2 linked regions of the Homo sapiens genome follow. The protein of the gene in region 2 purifies or fractionates together with the protein of the main gene of each other region. This does not show direct contact. Each region holds a gene or a part of one and is shown on either strand. Other genes may lie near its edges.

Region 1 (8,164 bases), on a different chromosome or scaffold from region 2:
AATGCATCTTCAGCTTTGACAGCCATTGTCAGGAGTGAGTTCCTTCCTAGGGCCTGGGATATGAATCCATGGACCAAAGGGAGAAAGTTGGGGAGGGAGGAATGAGCAAAGTAACCAGAAGTACCTTTCGGGAGGATTTGTATCATAGCTGTGCTTTGAAGGTCGAGGAAGAGGAGAAAGTGCTGTCTTTCCAGGTAGAAATATGTGTGTAAAAGCAAGAAGGTTAGGATGAGCCAAGCATGTGCAAGAGACAGTAGAAATGAGGTTGTGGAAGTAGGGGCTAGATATTAAGGGCACTGAAAATCAGGAAAAGTGGTATGAAGTTTATCAAGACATTTCCAGAGACCTTTTGTAGTTTCAGCTGATGATGGATGTGATAAGAGCTGAGCTGTGTGGGAAACTGATAGCCCACCACCACGCCCAGCTAATTTCTGTATTTTCAGTAGAGAGGGGGTTCACCATGTTGTCCAGGCTGGTCTCAAATTCCTGACCTCAGGTGATGTGCCCTCTTTGGCCTCAGAAAATGTTGGGATTACAGGCATGAGCCACTGTGCCCAGCTGCTTCTTCTTTCTTACAGGGTGAAAGAGAGAGGGAGAGAGAGAGAGACAGAGAGACAGAGAGAGAGAGAGAGAAAGAGAGAGAGAGTTGGTTATGCTGGGGGCTGGAGCAGGGCTGAACTGGAAGAGGATGAAGTCTGAGTTGTGTGGACAGTTTTGGTAAGGAAAATGATCAGTACTGCATACTGGATGGGAGACAGAGGAGAGAAGCATGGTGTCCAAGCTATACTCTAGGTGCCTAGGTGCATGGAGACAGCTCTCTCAGAGATAGGATGCAGGGAGAGAAGACAGTCTAGAGAGTCAGTCTCATGACTGATACCCACCATGTATCTCTAGGACCATCTATTTCTAGATACTCAGTTTCCTGATGGGAGGTAGCTCCTGGCTGCTGGTGGGAGGTGTTCCTGGGGCTTTGCATACGTTACATTGTTGCCTCCCTTTCTGCCCTTGCTCTGCAGGAGGCCCAGTGAATATATTGCCACCATCTTGGAGCTCAGTGCCCTTGTAGAGAAAAGAAGCCAGCATATCCTCCAGCACATGGACTTTCTGTATTACCTCTCCCATGACGGGCGGCGCTTCCACAGGGCCTGCCGCCTGGTGCATGACTTCACAGACGCTGTCATCCGGGAGCGGCGTCGCACCCTCCCCACTCAGGGTATTGATGATTTTTTCAAAGACAAAGCCAAGTCCAAGACTTTGGATTTCATTGATGTGCTTCTGCTGAGCAAGGTAGGTTTCTCTATGATCTGAATTTAGGTGAGAGAATAGAGCTTCATGTCAAATGTCAGGTGAAATAAATTGGTTTTGATCCAAAGGGCACTGGGAGCCATGGAAGATGCTTGAGAAAGGGAAGGTCACAGATAGGTTTTAGAGATGACTTTATTGCATGCAGCCCACAGGGCACTGCTAATTCTGAAACTGTGAGGAGCATGATATTTTATTCAACTTATAAGTTAGTGTGTTAGTCTTTCACATTTTTATGTGTATCTATATGTCTATGTCTTTGTCTATGTCTGTATCTATGATAAAAGATGCACCAAACCCCTGGATCACAGCAGCCCATTAATTATTTACAGCAGTAACAGCAGGTGGAGTAGGATGGTAGTGCTGGCTCCCCATTCCTAGGGCAACACAATGTTTTTACCTGTAAATGCACAAGAATTTGCACCAAGGAGAGGGGCCCCCACATTATGAGTATTATAGCTTATATAGGACAGCTAGCTCATATGCTCCTTCTTTATTACAGGGTGAAAGTTAGAGACAGAGAAAGAGAGAGAGAGAGAATGCTTTGTTCTGGCGTATAAACTACCCCTCTCCTGTGAGATGGCAATTTCTAGAGTTTTATAACCCAAATATCTTCTGGAAAGATAAGATTCTCTGGGTTTACCACTCTAGAATGTCAGCAAATATTTTTGGAGCAATACATAATTTCTAACCTCCAAGGCAAATTGCCATTCAAATATCCTGTACCCCAGGTTGCCAGTATCTTTTTCTCTGAAAGTCTGTATTATGCAGAAAAATGAAAATATTCGAGAACCATTGATTCCTGTCACCAGGGTCCAAAGAGGAGGCAAAGGATCTGGGGGAAGCCCTTGGAGTTGGGGCTTTGGTGATGGTGAACAAGAGAGATCTAGACGTGCAGAGTGCATTTGAGTTTCTGGAAGATCAGAGCTTCAGAGATTATCTCAGGTTAGACTCCGGAGTCTCAGAGATAGTATAATTTGTGTGTGTGTGTGTGTGTGTGTGTGTGTGTGTGTGTGTGTGTCTTGCTTTCTCTTCAGGATGAAGATGGGAAGGCATTGTCAGATGAGGATATAAGAGCAGAGGCTGACACCTTCATGTTTGGAGGTGAGGGTCCCAGTGTGGGACTACAGTGGAGACAGAGGTCCCTCCATCTCAGGATCCGGGTGGGTGGACCCTGGATCACTCCATTCTGCCCATCTTCCCCCTCCCTCCATCCTCCTGAGGGCCTCAATATCTGGGCGCTGTCCACCCTCCGGTGCTGAAGCCAAGCTTACCTGGCTGCTCCTCAGGCCATGACACCACGGCCAGTGGCCTCTCCTGGGTCCTGTACAACCTTGCGAGGCACCCAGAATACCAGGAGCGCTGCCGACAGGAGGTGCAAGAGCTTCTGAAGGACCGCGATCCTAAAGAGATTGAATGGTGAGTGCAAGTTCTTCTGGCCTGTTCCTGAGCCCATCATTGGTTCTGCTCCCCAAGTGAGGAGGGGTGGAGGAGTTGTTTTGTGGATTCTTCCACTATTGCTTAGTGGGTATAAAAGCAGAGGACCACAGGCAGGGCTTGATACCAAGCCTGGCTGTCAGGGGAAAAGTTGCAGGCCTTTAGGACCGAAAGACCCGGGCTGCTAAGAGAATTGGTGACAATGTGTGAGGACAGATAATGCTACTTTGCACATGTTCAGCAAATGAACTTCCCCTCCACTCTGTTTCTGTTCTCCCAGAAATATCAGTTTTTTCGAAAATCCTCACTTCTTGAATGTTTGCTCAGGTGGGGAGGGAGAAGTTGTTTTTGTCAATTCTTCCATTATTGCTTAGTAGTACTAGGAGCAGAGCACAGAGGCAGAACTTGGTATCCAACCTGGCTAGCAGGGGAAAGTTTTCAGACTTTTGGGACAGAGAGTCCTAGCCCGCTGAGAGAACTAAGGACAATATATGAAGGCAGACGATGACATCTAGACATGTTCAGTCAATGAATTTTCCCTTCACTCCTTTCTTGTTTACTCTGAATTATCATATTTTTTTCAAACATCTTTACTTCCTGAATGTTTACTCTTCTGTTCCCTAATTCCTACCCTCCGGTCCAGTCCAGGGAGTCCTAAGGGAGACCTGGGGGTAAAAGTCATCTATCTTTTGTCTAGAACACCTGCATCGTTCATCCATTCAGTCTTCATTCAGCAAACTCTTCCACATGCCTTTCCATTGCCAGTTCTGTTCCCACACCTTTCTGTGCTCTGGAGACCTGGAAAGAACCCTGCCTATGGATGTGTTTTCCAGGTACTCCCAGCCTAGTAGGAACAGTCCCCCACAAGACATTCCCAGTCCACATAGGCAAGGATGGAGTTGAGAGCAAGAGAAGCATGGCTGGGAGTACAGAAAGTGTGATAGAAAGTGTTTCAAGCCAGATCTGGTGGCTGTCGCTTGTGATACCAAGTACCGAGGAGGCTGAAGTGGGATAATCACTTGAGGTCAGGTTTAAGATCAACCTGGGCAATATAGAAAGAACCCATTTCTAAAAAAGTAAAAAACCAAAATAATAAAGTGCCTCAACTGAAACCCTGAATGGTGATCAGTAGGTGTTTGGATGCAGTAGTGCCCTAGGTCAAAAAGAAAGTCTGGGCAAAAATGCAAAAAGAGGGAGCAGGAGAGAGGGAGAAGAGGGAAAGAGAGGTTTGTGTGTCAGGGAAGGAGATGGTTATAAAGGGAGGGAGAAGTAAGAGGGAGGAAAAGTGAGGGAGAGCAAGATAAAGAGAGGAGGGAAGACAGAAGGAGACAGAGAGAGAATGAGAGAGAAAGGAACTGAGTTGTGATGAGATAATAACTATGGTAGTGAAAGCAGAGTCTGGCTGTGGAAAATATGGGAAAATGGTAATGGCTTCCATTTTAACCCAAAGGCAATGGGAAGCCATAACAAGTGGTTGAGCAGGGGAGGGGCAGGTCATATCTGGGCACCAGAAAGATCTTTTCAGAGCTACTGTGGAGAGAGGACCAGCTGTAGAATGAAGTCCCAGTGAAGACATTCTGGGACCTGAGCCAGGGCAGGGGCTGGGGATGGAGAGGAGGCAATGGACTGGACATGTGTTTTGGAGGCCGTGTCCTCCCGTCCAAGCCTTTGCTCAGCACAGCAGTCCTAAAAGGTGGCAACACTTTTTATGCTTTTAAAAACCAAGATATCAAGTAATACTGTGCACTTTGTAAACAAAAAAAAGTGTCTAAAACATTTATAAAAATGAGCTTTCCTCATGCCTGTAATCCCAGCACTTTGGAAGGCCGAGGCGGGCGGATCACGAGGTCAGGAGATCGAGACCATCCTGGCTAACACGGTGAAACCCCGTCTCTACTAAAAGTATAAAAAATTAGCCGGGCGTGATGGCAGGTGCCTGTAGTCCCAGCTACTCTGGAGGCTGAGGCAGGAGAATGGCGTGAACCCGGGTGGCGGAGCTTGCAGTGAGCTGAGATGGCACCATTGCACTCCAGCCTGGGCAACAGAGTGAGACTCTTTCTCAAAAAAAAAAAAAAAAGAGCTTCCTTCTTAACTGTCACCCTAGTAGTTTCTACCATCAATGGTTTTGTGTGTCCCTCCAGAAGATGGCTATCTTGATGCCCACTTTATAAGAACACAGACTTCTTCTATACAAATAAGAGTGTATAAAATAGACACAGTACTTTTTCCCAAGATGGTGGGTTGGAGGCAATGTCAGTGTGCCTCTCCCATGTGGAAGGACAGAATAGTGTGTAGAGATTCACAGTGTAAGCTTTCTTTTCCCAAGAAACAACACAGGGACTTAACAGGAAAACCAGAAGAATCCACAAACCCTTCAAAAGAAGCTACAGGCTGCATTCTACTCTGTGAGACAGGTGAAAAACTGTGAATCCTCAGAGTAAGAGGGGGAGAGACTGCTTCCTAGGTACACATCTTCACTGGGGAATCTGAAAATCCAGACCACAGGAGAAGGCCTTAACTCTATCCAGGGCTTGAACTGATTTAGGGAGTGGTAAGAAATATAAAAGTAGAAGCAGCAGCAGGAAGTCCCTTGCAGGCATTCACAATCTCCAGCATGGACTGAGGGAAGCCATTCCTTATTGTATCTCACAGGGGACCTTGGGGAAGTCAGACAACTAGCTCAGGTGAGGTCACAGGTTGAACGAAATGCCCAAATGAATTTCTTGATATAACCTCGAGTGGGGATGAACTCCCTTGACCAGAACCCGGGAGGCAAGCAGGAAGTGTGCTGCAGACAGGAGTTCAGAAGCTGGGTGCCTGGCCTTGGACAGGGACAAAAAAGGACATGGCCTGAAAGCATTGCTATTTCTGTGGGAAAAGCTTATGGCCTGGGGCAGGGCTGAGTTCTGTGCACAGACTGCCTGGATCTAAATCCAGTGCTATGAGTGGAACACTGCATGTGTGAGACCCACCTTGTGCCAACTGCATGGGAGCTAGATGAGGCTTACTGCCACCTGCTACTCTCCACTCCCTTGTCAAACTCTTCTGTGAGGCAGAGGCAGTTATACTCACCTCTGGATCATTACCCCAGTGACCTAAGAACCACCCTCTGACTCTCACAGGGCAAAACAAACAAACAAAAAAACAGTTGCAAAAAAAAAAAAATACCTAGGAATATACTTAACCAAGGAGGTTAAAGCTCTCTACAAGGAGAACTACAAAACAGTGCTGGACAAAACCATAGATGACACAAACCAATGAAAACACATCCCATGTTCATGGATTGGAAGAATCAATATTGTGAAAATGATCATAGTGCAAAGCAATCTACAGATTTAACGCAATGCCTATGAAAATACCTTCATCATTTTTCACACAACTGGGAAAAGCAATTCTAAAATTCATATGGAACCAAAACAGAGCCTGTGTAGTCAAAGCAATACCAAGCAAAAAGAAAAAATTTGGAGGCATCACATTACCGGACTTCAAATTACATTACAAGGCTACAATTACCAAAACAGCATGGTACTGGTATAAAAGTAGGCATTTAGATGAATGGAACAGAAAGGAGGACCCAGAAATAAAGCCAAATACTTACAGCCAACTGATCTTTGACAAAGCATACAAAAACATAAATTGGGGAAAGACACCCTATTCAATAAATGGTGCTGGGAAAACTGGACAGTCACATGTAGAAAAATGAAACTGCATCCCCATCTCTCACCTTGTACAAAAATCAAAGGCTTAAATCTAAGACAGAAACCATAACAATTTTATAAGATAACCTTGGAAAAACTCTTTTGGACATTGGCCTAGGCAAAGAATTCGTGACCAAGACCACAAAAGCAAATGCAACAAAACCAAAAATAAATCAGTGGAACTTAATTAAACTAAAAAGCTTCTGCACAACAAAATAATAATAATAATAATAGCCGACTTAACAGACAACCTACAGAGTGGGGGAAAATATTTGCAAACTATGCATCTGACAAAGGGCTAGTATCCAGAATCTACAAGGAACTCAAACAACTCAGCAAGGAAAAAAAACAAACAAACAATTAGTTCCATCAAAAAGTGGGCAAAGGGCATGAACAGATAATTCTCAAAAGAAGATACACAAACAGCCACGAAACATATGAAAAAATGCTCAACATCACTAATCATCAGGGATATGCAAATTAAAACCACAATGAGATACCATCTTGTTTCTACAAGAATGGCCATAATTAAAAAGTCAAAAAACAATAGATGTATGTTGTGGATGTATTGAAAAGTGAATGCTCATACACTGCTATGAAAATTAACATAACCTCTGTGGAAAACGATAAGGATATTCCTTAGCGAACTAAAAGTAAATCTACCATTCCATCCAGCAATCTCACTACTAGGTATCCACCCAAAGGAAAAGTGATTATATGAAAAAGACACATGCACATGCATGCTTATAGTAGCACAATTCACAATTGTAAAGGTACGGAACCAACCTAACTGCCCATTGACCAATGAGTGGATAAAGAAAATGTGGCATATATACACAATGGAATACTACTCAGTCATAAAAAGGAATGAAATAATGTCTTTTGCCGCAACTTGGATGGAGCTGGAGGCCATTATTCTAAGTGAAGTAACTCAAGAATAGAAAACCAAATACCATATATTTTCACCTATAAGTGGGAGCTAAGCTGTGAGGACACAAATACATACAGAGTGATATAATGAGCTTTGGAGACTCGGAGAGCAAGGTTGGGAGCCGGGTAAGGGAGAAAAGACTGCATATTGGGGACAGTATACACTGCATGGGTGATGGGTGCACTAAAACCTCAGAATTCACCACTATAGAAATCATCCATGTAACCAAACCACTTATATCCCAAATGCTATTGAAATAAAAGGAAGTAAAGAAGAGACAGATCTGCACATTAACAATATATCTTTGGGAGCTTTTCTTTTTCTAAAAATATGAGTTTTGGAAAATTAGTTCGTTTTTATTTTTAATTGGCAAATTTTAATTATATATGTTTATGGGGTGCAATGTGATATTATGATATATGTATACAACGTGGAATGATTAAGTCAATTTAATAAACATACCCGTCATCTCATATACTCATCATTTTTGTGGTGAGAATATTTGAAATTTGCTCTCTTAGCAATTTTGAGAAATTTATTATTATTAACTGTAGTCACCATGCATGCAATAGATCTCAAAACTTATTCCTTCTAACGGAAACTTGTACCCTTTGACCAATGTCTTTCCATTCTTTCTTCCTCCCTTCTCTGGTAACCACCATTCTCTTCTTGGTTTCTATGATTTCTGTGTTAATTATTTCAGATCTCACAGTTAATTAAGGTTATGTGCTGTTTGTCTCTTTGTGCCTGGCTCATTTCACTTAGCATAATGTCCTTTAGGTTCTTGCAGATTGCC
Region 2 (8,164 bases):
TGGCAACTTCCTGACTTAGGATCAAATCCTTCAGCTCCTGCTGGGTATCTACAGCGGCTTGAGGCCATTCATGCCAAGGGTTAGGCCCACAGGGACCTGAAGCCCACCACTATCTTGCTTGGAGACGAGGGGCAGCCAGTTTTAATACACTTGGATGCCATGAATCAAGCATGCCTCACATGAAGGGCTCCCACCAGGCCCTGACCCTGCCGGACTAGGCGACCCAGCAGTGCACCATCTCCTACTGAGCCCTAGAGCTCTTCCCTGAGCAGTCACTGTGTCATTGATGAACAGACTGATGTCTGGTCCCTGGGCTGTGTGATATATGCCACAATGTTTGGGGAAGGCCCTTACGAAATGGTGTTCAAGAAACGTGACAGTGTGGCCCTTGCTGTGCAGAACCAACTCAGCATCCCACAAAGCCCCACGCATTCTTCAGGAGTGTGGCAGCTCCTGGCCTCAATGATGACTGTGGACCTGCAGCAGCACCCTCACAATGCTTGCCTCCTCAGTCAGCTGGAGGTACTGCAGCCCCCAGCTCCTGGCCAGCACACTGCCCAAATCTGAACAAAGCAGTGGCCATATTGAGAAGGTGGCGCCTTGTGCCTTGGAAAGAGGCTCCCATCACTCACTGGAATCTCTACCCATTCTTTCTTTATTTTATTTTATTTATTTTATTTTTTTTTTTTTGAGAGACAAGTCTCATTCTGTTGTCCAGGCTGGAGCAGAGTGGCACGATCTTGGCTCACTGCAACCTCCGCCTCCCGGGTTCAAGCGATTCTCCTGCCTCAGCTTCCCAAATAGCTGGGACTACAGGCATGCACCACCATGCCCAGCTAATTTTTGTATTTTTTAGTAGAGACGGGGTTTTGCTGTATGTTGGCCAGGCTGGTCTCGAACTCCTGACCTCAGGTGATCTGCCCACCTCGGCCTCCCAAAGTGCTGGGATTACGGGCATGAGCCACTGCGCCCAGCCTGCTTTTCTGCTTTCTTACCCCCAAGAGCAACACCTGGACAAGGGGCTTTACTGAGTGGGGGTGGAATAGGGGTTGGGAAAAGGAAAACTGATGCGATATGGTACATGGCTCTGTGCAGGACTGTTGAGCTCATATTACGTTCTGCCTCCAAATCTGGGAGCAAGAGAATGTATAAACAGAAGAATAAAGTGAATGCAGATTGGTGTGGGGGAAAATAAGTAAATAAATAAATAACAGGTAACTTTAGGGTAAACAACGAGTAACGTCTATTTTAGGATAATAATCAAACTTCAGTACAATCATTTTGAATTTCTATTGATGGCTTTAGGAACATTCATTATACTCCAGTATTTATTTTATGTATTTTTTTTGAGACAGAGTCTCACTCTGTCGCCCAGACTAGAGTGCAGTGGTATGATCTCAGCTCACTGTAACCACCACCTCGCAGGCTCAAGCAATTCTCCTGTCTCAGCCTCCCAAGTAGCTGGGATTACAGGTGCGCCCCACTACCGCCCAGCTAATTTTTGTATTTTTAGTAGAGATGGGTTTCACCATGTTGGCCAGGCTGGTCTTGAACTCCTGACCTCAAGTGATCCAGCCACCTTGGCCTCCCAAAGTGCTGGGATTACAGGCATAAGCCACTGCATCTGGTCACACTATAGTATTTTAAATGAGTTTGCAAGGGTAAAATTAAAAATCCTCAATTTCTCTATTTTTTTTTTAGCAGTTATAAGTTCTGACAGGGAGAAGATTATAACTTCTGACTAAAATAAAGATAATGACTCCTTTCAATCATCTCCATTGCCCCAAATAGGAAAGAAGTGGCAATGTTAAAACTGTCTCTCAGCCCATTTTCCCCAGTGTTTTCCTTCCAGTTAAATGCCATCAATTTGTATAGAAGTATCATATCAAGAGGAAAGAGGGATATTCAGAGAAATAAAACCCAGAAGAATTACTGCCATATAAATTCTTAAACCTAAAAACATGACATAGTGGAGTCACAAAACTGAGGTCCTACCCTCATTTGCCATTCACCATGTGACCAAGTAAAGTTGCTGAACTTCTCTGGACATGGTACTTTCCTAAGAGCAAAGTAAATTATACTTCTGAATATTCATTTCAATTCAACTCATTTGTAGCATACAGAATAAAAAGTCAGATCAACCGGTTGGGTAGGCAGCAAAAGTTAGTAATGAATGGTACAAGCAACACTGTAACCTCAAATCCCAGGAAAAACCAGTAAAGATGAGTCATTTAATAATGAGGTTTGCAAAGAAAGCCATTATTTAAAAAGACACACAGAAATAACAACAGTAATCACTGTAGAAACGTTGATCACTAATAATTTTCCAAGACAATAATTAAAAATAAGTGCTCAATAACACCTCCAAGGAGGAAAAAAGTTAACTGTACCCACATACATAGTTTCATCAACAGACTGACTGCATTCCTGGACTGCTGCTTCCACCACAGATCGTTCAATCATGTTTGATGACACTGAAAAGAGAATTTCAAAGTCAAAATTTAAAAACAAAAAAAAAAATAGTTCTTTCCACAGACAGCTCTTTTCCCAAAAATAATTTGCAAATATTAATACTGAGATTCTCATTATACAGTTTTTGGAGAAAAAAAGTGTTAGGTCAGAACAATAACAAAAGCCTTATCTCAAATACCTTCATTTTCCACACTCAAAGTTACAATACCTTAATATACAGTCAAATGCCTTAATTTTCTAAACCCTGTTTAGTTATAAGAACATTTCTGAGCTAGGGTCGGTGGCTCACACCTATAATCCTAACACTTTGGGAGGCCAAGGCAGGAGGATGGCTCGAGCCCAGGAGTTTGAGACCAGCCCAGACAACGTGGTGAAACCCCTTCTCTACAAAAAATATAAAACTTAGCTGGGGGTGGTGGCACATGCCTGTAGTCCCAGATACTCAGGAGGCCAAGATGGGAGGATCACCTGAGCCCAGGGAGGTGGAGGCTGCAGTGAGCTGTGATCATGCCACTGGCACTCCAGCCTGGGCCACACAGAGTGAGATACTATCTCAAAAAAAAAAAAAATTCTCTAAGCTCCCAGTTTTAATAAGGTTACATTAGTATAACTTTATCATCATAACTGCTCAGTTTCAATGAGCATGATAGTAACAATAGCAGCTACCACTTATTAAGCATTGAGTAAATGTGTGGCACCATCCTCAGTACTTTATTTACAAGTATTATTCCACTGGGTAGATGTCCTGTAAGACTGATGTTAAGATGCCCATATCTTATAGATAGGGAAAATACAACTTTAAGAGGTTGAAAATTTTGCCCAAAAACTAGAAGAGATAGAGAGCAACAAAAACCCAGGACTGATTCCAGTGGGGGCTCTTTTAATCACTTTGATATGTTGTCAAGCAAAATACCATGTGCCATCTTAAATCAATGTACACAGGGACAAGTATCATTTTCTTTTTTTTTTTTTTGAGACGGAGTCTCGCTCTGTCAGCTAATTTTTTGTATTTTTAGTAGAGACGGGGTTTCACTGTGTTAGCCAGGATGGTCTCGATCTCCTGACCTCGTGATCCGCCCGCCTCAGCCTCCCAAAATGCTGCGATTACAGGCGTGAGACAAGTATCAGTTTCTAAATGTTCAACTGTAAAGGAATTTTTTAAGCAAAGGTATATGTAAAATTCTGCCTTTAGGAATGAAAATGAGATATAATAACCATTTATCCTGTATCACGGAGTATGTTTCTTCCTATATAATTGAAGTGACTAGCATCTATATAACATTAAGAGTGAACTCGGCACTTCTCAGCCTTTTATGCTAAGATAAAGTGGACAGTGAGCCATACCCACTTCTATCCTCAGGGTGCTATAAATATCAGACTTTTTTTCCAAGGGGAAGAGCATTTCTTCTTTCCAGTCCCATGCTTGTGGTATTAAGTATTTAACAAAAAGGTCCCTGAATCCCTATGGCAGTGTGGCAGTGGCAAGAGGAAACATGCTGATACAGTTTTACTGACAGGTTGAATAGAGAGGTGTCTCAGAAAACTCCCCGAAGTATATGGCTGAAATGGACTGCAAATCATAAAAAACTGGAACAGAGGTTTAGTTCATGTATTGGTGGCCCCATTCTAGCTTCTTTGGGCATGTTTCAACAGATGTGACTTTCCAAAAAAGAACATGAAGAAAGAGAGGAGGGGCCAGGTGTGGTGGCTCACGCCCGTAATCCCAGCACTTTGGGAGGCCAAGGTGGGTGGATTACCTGAGGTCAGGAGTTCAACACCAGCCTGACCAATATGGTGAAACCCTGTCTCTACCAAAAATATAAAAATTAGCCTGGTGTGGTGGCACGCACCTGTAGTCCCAGCTACTCAGGAGGCTGGGACAGAAGAATCGCTTGAACCCGGGAGGCAGAGGCTGCAGTGAACCAAGATGGCGCCATTGCAGTGAACCGAGATGGCGCCATTGCAGTGAACCGAGATGGCGCCATTGCACTCCAGCCTAGGCAACAGAGTGAGACTCTGTCCCGCTCTCACCAAAAAAAAAAAAAAAAAAGGGAGAGGAGGGAAGCAGTGTGTAGAAAGCAAATGCCTTGAAGGAGTTCCCAAACCTCTACCTTCCTGGGTCACCTTATGTTTCATAACTTTGGTATACTCAAGAAAAAAATGACCATCTTTTATAGAATGTGCTTTTCTTGAAATCCACTTATTCTTTTTTTTTTTTTTTTTTGAGACGGAATCTCACTCTGTCACCCAGTCTGGAGTGCAGTGGCATAATCTCAGCTCACTGCAACCTCTGCCTCCCGGGTTCAAGCGATTCTCCTGCCTCAGCCTCCCAAGGAGCTGGGATTACAGGCGCCTGCCACCATGCCTGGCTAATTTTTGTATATTTAGTAGAGACAGGGTTTGCCATGTTGTCCAGGCTGACCTTGAACTCCTGAACTCAGGCGTTCCCACCAGCCTCGGCCTCCCAAAGTGCTGGGATTACAGGTGTTAGCCACCATGCCTGGCCCCACTTATTCTTATCACAAGCGTTATATAATTTTGTATCAATGTCTATTTTCACCAGGTACAATGGCTCACGCCTGTAATCCCAGCACTTTGGGAGGCCGAGGTGGGCGATCACCTGAAGTTGGCGGTTCGAGACCAGCCTGGCCAACATGGTGAAACCTCGTCTCCACTAAAAATACAAAAATTAGCCAGGCATGGTGGCGCACACCTGTAATCCCAGCTACTCGGGAGGCTGAGGCAGGAGAATCATTTGAACCCAGGAGGCAGAGGATGCAGTGAGCCGAAATAGCACCACTGCATTCCAGCCTGGGCGACAGTGCAAGACTCCTTCTCAGGGAAAAAAAAAAAAAAAAAAAAAAAAAAGTCTATTTTCTACAGTTTGCTTTCAGTAAAATGCCTTCCAACTCTGTTTAGTGTATTCATTATCAGTGCATTAGTAGAATTGCTTTTTATTGAAAAGTTACTGTCTCTGCCCTTTAACTTAGACTTACAAAATTAAGTTAAAATGACTAGCCATTCTATTAAAAAAAAAAAATCCCTGAAGAAATCAAGAAGAGATGTCAGCTCTGTTTACTTTACTCTTCTTTTTTTCCTCCCAAACATTTAGGAGTTAATGACTTAAATAAGACATGGTAATAGCCACTAGGAGAGACAAAGTGACCATAAAGGACCAGATCAAAATCAGAAGCCAAGTGCAGGAAACATGGTGGTGACACCTCCACTGGGGGAAAGGAACTATAAAAGGGCCCTTGGGGATCATCCTGAGGTTCCAACTAAACTAAGGGTTTGGATGTCATCAACAGTTAAAATAAAAAAGGCCGGGTGTGGTGGCTCCCGCCTGTAATCCTAGCACTTTGGGAGGCCGAGGCAGGTGGACTGCGTGAGCCCAGGAGTTTGAGACCAGGCTGAGCAACACAGTGAAACCCCATCTCTACTAAAATACAAAAAATTAGCCTGACATGGAGGTGTGTGCCTGTAATCCCACCTACTCGTGAGGCTGAGACAAGAAAATTGCTTGAACCCGGGAGGTGGGGGTTGCAGTGAGCCAAGATAGCGCCATTGCACTCCAGCCTGGGCAACAGAGCGAGACTCCATCCCAAAAAAGAAAGAAAAAAAAATTAAAATAAACTAAAGGTATTACCCCTTGGGAAGAAATGCTACCATGCATACATCTTATAACACTGGGACATCTTAATAGTGAAGCCTCAACTTCAATTTAAATCTATACATCTAACTGAAGATGCAGAACTATATTAACAATTTAGGAGTTATCAGAAAATATTACTTACAGGGTTGCTTCTCAACTGCATTAATTATCTTTTCCAGTTTATCTTCAAGCTCTAATTCACTGATAGACTGAAGAGCTTCTGTGAGGTACTTAATAGCTTCACTAAGAAAAGGAAAGGAAAAATGAGGCAGGTCATTAGTAATTAAAGGCTAAAAGTTTTCTGCCAAAAAGCAGCAAATACTCATCAATCTGGCACTGAAAGGAAGAACCACTAACTGCTCTCTTCAAGTAGCACTTTATCTTTCCTGTGCTTTCTGAACAAAATCATCCTCCTATGCCTTGCTAACATAAAGCCTCAAATCACATCCTTCCTCTAAGAAGGCTTCCTAGACCAGCTCTACCTGCTGCAATCTCCCCTTTCTTCTGAAATTGTTAAAAATCACATTTACATATACCTTAGATCTGATATATTACATTAGCCTTTTATTACTTACTACCCTACATTTAAGGCAAGAGTCCATCTGTTTCAATGTCAAGCACCATATCCTGAACATAAGACACTCATATATTTAATTTGATAATGCACTTGTTCAAAGTAAATTCCAATAATCACTGTTTTCAATTGTAAAATAAGAAAAAAAATAGGCTTGGCTGTGCGCGGTGGCTCACGCCTGTAATCCCAGCATTTTGGGAGGCCGAGGCGGGCGGATCATGAGGTCAGGAGATCAAGACCATTCTGGCTAACACACGATGAAACCCCGTCTCTACTAAAAACACAAAAAATTTAGCCGGGCATGGTGGCGGGCGCCTGTAGTCCCAGATACTCGGGAGACTGAGGCAGGAGAATGGCGTGAACCCGGGAGGCAGAGCTTGCAGTAAGCCGAGATCGCGCCACTGCACTCCAGCCTGGGCGAGAGAGCGAGACTCCGTCTCAAAAAAAAAAAAGGCTTTAAAAAACTATGACATTTGAATATAATCATAGAAGCAACACTCATTAAAATCACATGAATTTGTGTTATACGAAAGGAGAGGTTGGCACTCCACTTGACAAAGATGGAAGAGGCCCTCGGGCCTGACAATACACATATGGTAAGGCACTGCCACCTGCTTCATGGAGTCTGACCATCATTAAAAAAAAAAAAAAAAAAAAAAAATCATGGCTGGGCACGCGGTGGCTCACGCCTGTAATCCCAGCACTTTGGGAGGCCAAGACGGGCAGATCACGAGGTCAGGAGATCGAAACCATCCTGGCTACCACGGTGAAACACCATCTCTACTAAAAATACAAAAACAAAATTAGCCAGGCATGGTGGCGGGCGCCGGTAGTCCCAGCTACTTGGGAGGCTGAGGAGGGAGAACGGAGTGAACCTGAGAGGCGGAGCTTGCAGTGAGCGGAGATCGGGCCACTACACTCCAGCCTGGGCAACAGAGAAACTCCATCTCAAAAAAAATAAATAAATAAAATAAAATCACATTAATTCCTTACCTAAATCCCAACAATGATCAGAATGAACATGATTAACTAGTTACATGCCACTACATGCCATTCTGTATTTGTAGCACACTTTATACCTCACATCAATATTATTGCTGATTACAATATTAAACAATTAGCTAATTACATGCCATTCTGTATTTGTAGCACACAATTTAACATTTCACATATTATTGTTATAGCCATAACACTAATTGTTCTATATATTGGGTTGCTTTATTAGTTGTTTTGTGTGTAGGTGTTGCATCTCTCAAATTTATTATAGATAACTGAGAACTGAATTATAGATAACTTTAAAACTGTAACTTAGAACTCTGTGCCATCCTTCCACAGAGTTCTAAATACACTTGAAGGTGGTCCATAAATATTTGACCACTGAGTCCCTAAAATCATATACATTTTGGTTGCATCTTGGGACAGTTCTTAGCATAGACCAAAGCCTGTAAAGCCATACAGAATCTTGC

The links.
Region 1: the proteins of POLE2 (region 2) and CYP4F12 purify together in Homo sapiens (affinity purification with mass spectrometry; 2 studies listed by BioGRID and IntAct, with this or other methods). This does not show direct contact.

What each region holds. Positions count from the first base shown.
Region 1 is NC_000019.10:15,682,477-15,690,640, forward strand, and holds part of CYP4F12 (cytochrome P450 4F12), read left to right. Parts: coding exon 1-34; intron 35-1,016; coding exon 1,017-1,287; intron 1,288-2,339; coding exon 2,340-2,406; intron 2,407-2,591; coding exon 2,592-2,721; intron 2,722-8,164. UniProt on the Homo sapiens protein: A cytochrome P450 monooxygenase involved in the metabolism of endogenous polyunsaturated fatty acids (PUFAs).
Region 2 is NC_000014.9:49,677,327-49,685,490, forward strand, and holds part of POLE2 (DNA polymerase epsilon subunit 2), read right to left. Parts: intron 6,368-8,164; coding exon 6,267-6,367; intron 2,475-6,266; coding exon 2,399-2,474; coding exon of another isoform or gene 2,395-2,398; intron 1,184-2,394; exon of another isoform or gene 982-1,183; intron 655-981; exon of another isoform or gene 1-654. UniProt on the Homo sapiens protein: Accessory component of the DNA polymerase epsilon complex. Participates in DNA repair and in chromosomal DNA replication.